Linked DNA regions of Homo sapiens: region 2 is linked to region 1. Evidence: fine-mapped expression QTL. A gene starts in region 1. The other region holds a variant in brackets. All regions are shown on one strand. Distances are from middle to middle. Region 1 holds the start of DNAH5-AS1 (DNAH5 antisense RNA 1). Region 2 overlaps DNAH5 (dynein axonemal heavy chain 5).

What was found. PIP is the estimated chance that this variant, and not a neighbour inherited with it, causes the effect.
Region 2: its variant is the best candidate, but not a certain one, in a credible set for the expression of DNAH5-AS1 in prefrontal cortex (GTEx, PIP 0.51).

What each region holds. Positions count from the first base shown.
Region 1 is chr5:13,858,300-13,863,299 of GRCh38, reverse strand. It overlaps DNAH5-AS1 (DNAH5 antisense RNA 1), which reads right to left and starts at 2,861. Exons shown (of 3, transcript NR_199035.1): 1 at 2,745-2,861. DNAH5 (dynein axonemal heavy chain 5) reads left to right here. Exons shown (of 79, transcript NM_001369.3): 29 at 553-752; 30 at 3,695-3,848. RefSeq lists an enhancer at 3,234-4,433.
Region 2 is chr5:13,896,194-13,901,193 of GRCh38, reverse strand. DNAH5 (dynein axonemal heavy chain 5) reads left to right here. Exons shown (of 79, transcript NM_001369.3): 15 at 782-988. DNAH5-AS1 (DNAH5 antisense RNA 1) reads right to left here. Exons shown (of 3, transcript NR_199035.1): 2 at 4,449-4,605; 3 at 142-3,659. Among named protein-coding and RNA genes, the nearest start is that of DNAH5-AS1, 38 kb to the right of the region's middle. The variant C/T (reference allele first, on the strand shown) is at 2,790.

The DNA of each region.
Region 1 (5,000 bases):
AGTGATTGAAGTCATGGGTGTAAATGAGCTCACCCAGAGGGGGAACATAGGTGGGAAGAAATGAGGGTAAAGGAAGGGCTTGACTAATGGTCTAGGAGAAGGTTGAGGCCATGAGGAGACTGGGAAAGTCAACAGAGCCATGGGAGAATCAGGTTTCTGCTACCTGTGTTCATTCACATGCTGCATTCACTTGACTTTAGAGGTAGATCAGAAATACATTGAATTTTGAATCAGTGATTAAAGTTTCAAAATTTAAAAGTGATTTGCATATATTTTCTGTCATCTTTCCTTTTGGGCAAGTTTGCTGGGAAATTTTATAAATTAAAGTTCTATTTTTCAGTCATATCTTTATCTCCATCTCTCTTCATGCATCAGTATCTGCGTATACACCTTCTGTTTATTATATTGCATTTTAGGTCTGGAAATATAAAAGTTTATATATATATTTATATATATATGAAGCAAATAGTGAAGATGGGGTATTGCACGTAGACTATTAAGGAAGGACGTGTGACTTTCATGCAATAACATGAGAGCTTGCCATTTTGATAGGACATCTGTATCAGTGCGGTGAAAGAGAGAGACATTGAGCAAAAGCTGAAGCAAGTGATTAATGAATGGGACAATAAAACATTCACCTTCGGCAGCTTTAAAACCCGTGGAGAGCTCCTCTTGAGAGGAGACAGTACCTCGGAAATCATCGCCAACATGGAGGACAGCTTGATGTTGCTGGGATCCCTACTGAGCAACAGGTGGGAAAACCATCTATCTTTTCCCTTAGATTTGAGAACCGTAATAGCAAACATTTAAAATTAATGAAAAATCCATTACAATAATAGCCTTCATATAGTTTACTCAATGTTGAAAATACTTGTTTTAATTACATTGATTAATTAATTTTTATATCCAAAACATATTTTTACTCAGGTACCCACTTATATATACATCATCAAGAGATTATATTTCAATTATTCTTGTTTTCATTTTGGCCTCAGGCACATGTTAGAGCATGTGTAACTCTGGTTTTATTTCATTATCCTCTATTTGTGGGGTATGTCTGAGACCATCCACTGGACAAAATAATGCAACGTATAATTAGCCACTCGGCTCTTGGGAACATTTCAGCTTGCTGCTGACAAGCCTGACTGCACAGCTCATAGCTCTACAGGCTGTAGAATCCAGGAGGAACATTATTTTGAATTTCAGAATAATCATTTTACTCGAAAAACCTTTTTTACCAATATCTGTGGACTAGAAACTCTTAGTTGTTTACATACTCTATTTTTTATATTTGTACAAATTTATGGGGTACATTTGAACTTGTTTTTTTTTTTTTTTTTTTTTTTTGAGATGGAATCTTGCTTTGTCACCCAGGCTGGAGTGCAATGGCGTGATCTCAGCTCACTGAAACCTCAGCCTCCCTGGCTCAAGTGATTCTGCCGCAGCTTCCTGAGTACTGGGATTACAGGCAACAGCCACCACGCCTGGCTAATTTTTGTATTTTTAGTAGAGACAGGGTTTCACCATGTTGGCCAGGCTGGTCTCAAACTCCTGGTCTCAGGTGATCTGCCCGCCTTGGCCTCCCAAAATGCTGGCATTACAGGCATGAGCCACTGTGCCTGTCCACATGTGAACTTTCATTACATGTATATAATGCATAGTGGCCACCCCTCACATTTTGGACATACAAACCACACAGTCATGAATTTACATTTCCTTGTTTCATTGCTTCCATTTGCTCTTTCTGAAATAATGTTTTTGTTCCCCAGAATCTTCTCAAATATATGGTAATTGTGCAGAAAGTGGATACCATTGAGATATGAATTTGTTGTTCTATTCTAGCTTTAAAATATCACCCAATTCTCCATATATATGTGTATCAATACTTTTAATGTTGGAAATACTGTGTACTTCATACTATTTCAAAAAAATTTCTCTTATTTCAGTTTACTTGTTACACTAAAGTAATATTGGGATATAAAGTTAGACCATTAGTAATCTTGAGTTTGGACTTCTCAGGATTTAGTGAGTTTTAATGAACTTGGTTACTATTCATACCAAACCAGAATAAAGGATAGACAGGCAATAATATACCCTAGGGAGATAGAAAAGACACTCATGTAAATTAAGTAAAAATTATCTGGTTGGGGTGGGGAAACTTTTCTTTTCAATGGCATCTAATCTACAGATAGAGTTATTGGGAGGAGTATTTTTTCAATATATATTTATTGAACCTTTACTATGTGTGTGATGTACTCTTCTAGGCGCTGTGGGTAGAACAACAAATAAGGGAAAGATCTCTGTTTCTATGGACCTATATTTCTAGTGAAGAGCATACAAATATTCAGAAAGATGCATGGAATATTAAAACAATTTGGTTAACAATTAAGAATATGGAAATTAAACTTTTATGCAATAATACGACTTCAAGTCCATATTATGTAGGGCTAGAGAGAACCATGAAGGGATAAGAAAGAGAAGAAGAGACACAAAGGTAGGCTGTATAATCATTTAGGATTAAGTTTGTCTGTAAATAACAGAAACACCACATACAAAATGGCTAATATAACACTGATGTTTATATTGCTCACGCATAAAAGAATTCCTAATGTAGGTGGTTCAGGTTGGAATGGGGGCTTTACCACATCATCAGGGACCCAAGCTTGGTCTGGCTCACTCATCTGTCTTTCCCAGGTGTGACCTTATTCCCCATACTACCCATTACATCCAATGCCACTACTCACATTTCATGTAGAAGAGTTGTTCTCAATCTTTGCAACGTACCAGATACACTGAAGGAACTTAAAAAAATCCCAATGCCAGGGCCACTTCCCAGACCCATTGAATCAGAGTCTCTGTACGTAGGACCCAGGCAGGCATCAGTAATTTTTAATGCTGGCGAGATGATTCCAGTGTTCAGCTATGAGATCATTCCAGTGTTCCGCTAAATTAAGCACTGTTGATGTGGAACTTAGTCTTCTGACTGCACATTACTGCAAAGGGAAGCTGGGAAATTCAGTAATTTAGCTGGGTAATTATGAGCCCACATGGAAAAGCAGAAGGAAAAAAGGACATTGGGAGGCCACCCACAGGCAGTCTGTCTCAAAGAGGAAAAGGGGAAGACAGATTAACTATGGAAGAGGCAGTAATCTTGCACACATGTACATCAAACATGAGTGGGTTGGACACAGGTGCGTGGGAAGTTAGAAAGAGACTCAGAAAAGGGGAGGCTAAGGAGAGAGTCCAGGTGTTATCATATTTGAAGATTGAATTAGTTGTCTGGTCCCCACTGATGGTTCTATAAAAGCTCCATATTATATGAAAAACCAGAGACTCCATGAAATAGGCACAGAAGCTCAGTAGGGCAAATATTATTCTCGTAGCCATAGCAGCACTGAGGGTAATTATATTACCCTGGAAGCTTGGTGGAATCAAGTCTAATGCCTGATCTACTCCTTAGATTATAAATCTCCCACCCTTCTCTATGCTCTGGATCAAAAGGGAAAAAGCTAGACTAACAATGAACAGTAAGTGGGGATGAATTAATCACTTGGTTGCATCACTTTAAAAGCCAGCAACATAATTAAGGTTGTAAAGAAAGCGGTTAAAAATTAAGATTTTTAAAAACCTTTTTAATTTGAAACAACAGCACAACAAAAACAAAACCAAACCCTAAACCTATTTCTTATTTTAGGTACAATATGCCATTCAAAGCCCAGATTCAAAAATGGGTGCAGTACCTTTCCAACTCAACAGACATCATCGAGAGCTGGATGACGGTGCAAAACCTGTGGATTTATTTAGAAGCTGTCTTTGTGGGAGGAGACATTGCCAAGCAGCTGCCCAAGGTTTTGTAATCTTCTTTATGATTTCATCAGATTTTTCAGAGAAAGCTCTCAGAGCGATTACCCCCTTAAATAATGCAATAATATTCCACTTCTATTGAACCCCCTTCCTTCAATCTTTTTGTTGTCACTGTTAATGCTGTTATTCTTCAAAGGGAGTGAGGAATTGTGGAAAGGAAAGGGGTGACAATCAGAGTAAGAATGCTGTAAAACTGTGGAGGTTTGATAGGAGATAGAGGGTTAAAAAAACAAAAAATAAGTGGTCGCATAATTGATATGCTTCTTTAGATAATTTCAAGGTAGAATTTGGAACAGTGTAGAATTATGGTGCAGTTATCTTGACAATGGTAGGCTAAGTTTTTCTACTACAGACATTTTAAAGTAATGCATACTATACAATGTACCCAATTATATCTGTACAGTAAAATTGAGGGGTGGAAATGTGCAGAAAAAATCTCCAAAACAAAAAGACCTTCTTTTCAAGATGTCAAGTATATATTTATCATCAAATCGTAATCATCTTACTGGGTATATATGGAGTATATTTTGAGATTTTTAAATGAACATTTTAACCAATTCTCAAGGATTCTTATTCAATTACCTTAAGTCGTATGCAAGATTATAACATTTTAACAATATATTTCAGTTTTAGAAGCATGATTATTTTAAATGTTTTCATCACATAGGTTTCTGAACTTCTTTTTTGGTTAGTTTTCAGTTTAATTACAGATGACAGATAAAATCAGACTGCAGACCATTTATTTTGGAGGCAATAGTGAAATGTATTCACTCACTAAAATTTTACTTTATTTTTGATTTGTATTTGTGCATGTTTTTCATCTTCTTTTCTTAAAGGTTTTAAGTAGGAGGTTTGGATTTTTTTTTTAAATTATATTTAAGTTCTGGGATACATGTGCAGAATGTGCAGGTTTGTTACATAGGAATACAGGTGCCATGGTGGTTTGCTGGACCCAGCAACCTGTCATCTACATTAGGTATTTCTCCTAATGCTATCCCTCCCCTTGCCCCACACCCCCTGACAGGCCCCAGTGTGTGATGTTCCCCTCCCTGTGCCCATATGTTCTCATTGTTCAACTCCCACTTATGAGTGAGAACATGCAGTGTTTGGTTTTCCATTCCTGTGCTAGTTTTCTG
Region 2 (5,000 bases), 38 kb before region 1:
CATTTGACAGTGTTATTTCTTTAGAAAGCTGGATTTGTAGGTGTTTTGTAAGGCAGATGGGTTGAATCTAAGCGTTCAGAGTGTAATATGTCCACAAAGAAAAATAATTATTAGATTTGAAAAGAAACCACAAGCCAGGTAACAGAACCCCATTTTTATTTAATTTACGAACTCCAAAGTGAGAAGATCTTGTTTATTGGTTCCTATGCCCAATCTATTAGGATATCTTGCTTTTTAAAATTCAGTCAGATCCTAAATATGTCAGTAAACACTAGCACATCTGTTAAACAAAGTTTCAAATTTTCTTTTGTTGTACAACTGGTTAATCATAGCATATCCTACCAATACATGTATTTCTTTGTAGGCTGTCAGGATGCGATGTCTCCATAGCTGTGTTCATTGTTTTTCTAGATAAGTAAAAACTGAGTTTAGGAGGTCTTACGAAACTTTTATTAGGAAGAATAATAGAGTAGGCATGAAGGTATCAGGTAGCTAAATGGCTTTTGAGACGCCACCACTGTTGCAGTGTCCACTTATTTATCAGTGTTAGAGTCATTGAAAGGTTTTATTGAATTGACTGCCCAACATCAACACCAAGAACTTGAAGGCTATTGTATGAGACTGGATTTAGGAGAAGAGTGAGTGATCTTATTGCCCTTAATTTAGGAAGCTCAAATCCATGGAAGAACATTTAATGATCCTTATTCCTAGAGATAGCTGAGCTAGATACTCTGCATGAATTGAACTTTCTGATAGTAATGATGTTGGTTTCTTCCCACAGATTGAAGAAATTCATGTAGGTCTTGAGGCTTCATTATTGGTGAAGGCTCCAGGCACAGGGGAATTGTTTGTAAACTTTGACCCTCAGATATTAATCTTATTTAGAGAAACAGAGTGCATGGCCCAGATGGGTCTGGAAGTCTCTCCACTGGCAACTTCCCTCTTCCAGAAACGAGATAGATACAAAAGGAACTTCAGTAACATGAAGGTATACTACTTTTATTTTTTCCCCCCATTCTTGGCTAGCTCTGGAATGTATTATAAAAAAATATGGTGATGTGTCATATTCAAGGAGCAGAAAGTGGCCAGGATGAATGGAGTGACTGAGGGGACAGTGCCATGGGGTGCAGCTGCAGAGTTGGCTGGGGCCAGGCCGTTACAGGTCTTGCAGGCCAAGATGAGAAGCTTGGGTTTTATTTTGAGTGTACCAGGAAACCATTGGAGGATTTCGAGCCACTGAAAAAGGCACGATCTCTTTTTATAATAAAAGTTATTCTTACTGCTGGGTGGAAAATGGATGTTAAGAGGGACGAGGGGTATCAGCGGGAAGCCTGTTTGTGAAGTGTTGCACTGGCCCAGGATGAAGATGAGAGCTTGAACTGGGATGGCAGCAGAGTTGTTTGGAGAATTTAGAGTTATGTCAACAGTCAGGTTATAAGAGAACTCAGGAATAATACCTGTGGTTTTGGTGTGAGCAGTTCCATGAATTAAAGCAGGGGTGCCGTAGAATGCTGTGTAGGTTGCATTCTTCATAACTTGCACAATACCATGCAGGGGCCCTGACTGTAAGTTCAAGTTATGGAGATGGCGAAAACCGAAACTAGTGTATTTGGAGCAGCAGGAGGGAATCAGTAGTTCCCATTTAAGTACAAGATAGTTTTTAGACAGCCAAGTGGCAGTGTTGTCCATGCAGTTGGATACTTAAGTCTGGAGTTCAGTGGAGAAGCCAAAGTGGGAGGCATGCTTCTGAGAGTTATCAGAATATCATTGTTATTTAATGTCATTGTCCTGGATGAGATCTCTTAGGGGAGAGAATACAGACAGAGAAGAATGGAGGGCCACTGGGCCAAGCATTGGGTTGTTCCAGTATTAACAGATCTGAAAGAAGAAGACAGGTGTGCAAATAAAACAGAGGACTGACCTCTGAGCTGGGAAGAAACCAAGTGTCAAGGAGACCAAGGATGGCCGGGCACGGTGGCTCATGCCTGTAATCCCAGCACTTTGGGAGGCTGAGACTGGCAGATCACCTGAGGTCAGGAGTTCGAGACCAGCCTGGCCAACGTGGTGAAACCCCGTCTCTATTAAAAATACAAAAATTAGCTGAACATGTTGGCATGTGCCTGTAATCTCAGCTACTTGGGAGGCCGAGGCAGGAGAATCTCTTGAACCTAGAGATGGAGGTTGCAGTGAGCTGAGATTGCACCACTGCACTCCAGCCTGGGTGACAGAGCGAGATCCGTCTCAAAAAACAAACAAACAAAAAACAACAAAAAAAGGAAGCCAAGGGTATGAAAAGGCTACTGAGAGAGGGACTGGTCACCAGTGGCAAATGCTGCTACCCAGGGGATGAAGAAGGTGAGATCAGAGATGCGGCCATGGAATCTGACAACATGGAAACCATTGTTAAAATTTCATAGTGGTTAACATCACGTGACAATACTAAGTCCATGCACTTGCACTGTACTTTACATTTAAAGCCATTTTCATGCTCATTATTTCATCTGATCTTTTCTACCACTACGTTAGGTAAGTAGGACAGAATACTATTATTTTATTTCGTAGATGACAAAACTGTGGCTTAGAGAAGTTAAAAGATTTAGCAAAGGTCTCATAGCTACAAAGTGGCAGAAGTAAGACCAGAACCCAGACTTGTAGTCCATCGTCTTCCCACCACTTCATGTCATATTAAAAAGTTGTATTGGCAATGGACAGACATTCCTCAAATGTAGACTCATAAAATACCAGTCAGCATGTTGAGATTCCCTTTTAGACTCTTTCACATTAGGAAA[C/T]TCACTTAGTCAATTTACATATTCATAAAGAAAATAATATTTTTACTAAGAAACTATAATTATAAGATTATGGAATTACTGATAATTTAATTGTATTTGCAGAGTTGTTGTTTCACTTGTCTGTTTCAGGCAACAAACACTTGTAAGCACGTTGTAGGGTTTACAATAACCGTATCATTATATCATGACTTTATGGGTAAAGAACTTGAGTGGGGCTTGCATAGGTGATTCTTCTGTTCCATGTATTGTTGACAAAGGTTGTTTATTGGTATTCAACTGGCAGATGTTCAATCTGTAAGGTCCAAGAAGGGTTCTTCTAGTTTCTGTTTCTTTCCTGAGGAAAGCTGGAAGGTACACTCCAGTGGGACTGTGAACAGGCACATCTATACATGGCCTTCCAGTATGGAGGCCTCTGGCTAGTAGAATTTCTTATATGGCAGCTCAGGGTTTCAAGAACAAGCGCTACAGTGAACAATAAAGAAGTCACATGGTCTTTATAATAGCCTCAGATGTCTCACAGCATCATCTCTGTTGTACTCTGTTGGACTGTAAACCTACCCAGATTCAAAAAAAGGGGATGTGGTTCCCCCCTCCCCCATGAAGGGAAGAGGATCAAAGAATGTTTTAAATGACAATTCAAGGGAGTAAATTATCATCTCATTAACATTTATTATCTTGGAGGTTGAGAGTTAAAAGTTTCTGCTCAACCTGAGTAGCTGGTCAAAGCAGATCTATTGGCAGGTTTAGGTGACCATCTGAAGTGTTGCAGAATTATTGTGCTGAATATTTGACAGAGCTTTCAGGCTTTTGCAGATATGCCAAAGTAGCTGAGAATTTGTTTCTTCATCTCTTCCTTGGAAGACAGTTTAACTAGAAAGAGAAGACCAAGTACAGGCTAATAGTTACAAATATAGGTTCTGAAGCCAATTTAATCTGGATTCAAATCATTATCTTTGGGTAAATGACTTCACCTTCTAAGCCTGGGTTTCTCTTTTGTCAAAGCAGTTGAGTAATCCCTTCTGGGATTAAAGGTGGGAAGTAGAATGCCTGCTAGAAGCAGATTCTAAGAACTGCTTCCAGATAGAATAACTGGTGGACATTGAAAAAAAACAAGCAGTGGATACAAGTTTCAGGAAATATGTAAGTAGCTGCGAATAGAACCAGAAAATTTAGACTTTTCTAAAGTGGCTTTTATGGACATTGAAAGAATCTTATAGAAATTGTGGAAAAACATTATATGAGGAAAGGATTATGAGGTCCATCTGGGAAATACTGTGTTTAACAAAATTTTCAAAGCCTTGCAAGGCTTCTTACTTCCTTAAGCAGGTTTCTAAGAATCATTAATATTAGCTGTGACCACCCAAGAGGGGAGATATTGTATGCAGCATTTTCAAAATTTATCTATCAAAGGGACATTTTTTCTTATAGAATCTCTTTGGACCTAGTACTCTAGGCAAAACAGTTTGGAAAACATTCATCTATTATCAAGGTAAAACCAACATGCACATATATGACCTTAATACCAACTGTATTTATGGGGCACATTAAAGTTAGTTTCTTATAATTAATGATTATTAATATTGACATGGTTACATATGAACAAAATATTGACAGTTTGACATTATGTAAATAATACTGACACAGTTTGACATTATGTACCTTTCAGTGAAAGATGAGAATGCCCATTTCAGATGAAAAATCCTTCTGATAACAACTAATTAGATAGATATTGATTTATTATCTCCTATGTGCCAGGCACTGGTTCAGGCTCACTGGACAAAGCAGACAAAATTCTTGTCCTTGTAGAACTTATAGTCTAATTGGGTAAAACAGAAAATGAACACTGTAAGTAAGTAAATTAATATAGTCTATTGTAATAAAGTGATAGTTATTATGGACAAAAAAGGGGGATAAAATGTGTGAGTGGTTTTGGTGGTGGTTTATAATCTTAAACAGGTAGTCAGGACAGGTATAATTGAGAAAGTATCATTTGAGTACTTATTTGAAGGAGGTGCAAAGGCCCTGAGGCTCAGGACCAGAAAGGAAGACAGTCAGGCAAGTGCAGGTAAGAGAGGGAAAGAGTGGTTGGAGATGAGATCAGAGAAGTAATGGGACAAAATCGGGTAGATCTTTCTAGAACAAGCATCTATCCAAGTCCTTTGTATAAAGGTTTGTAGCCCTGAATTAAATGGGAGGCTATGTAACCATGTG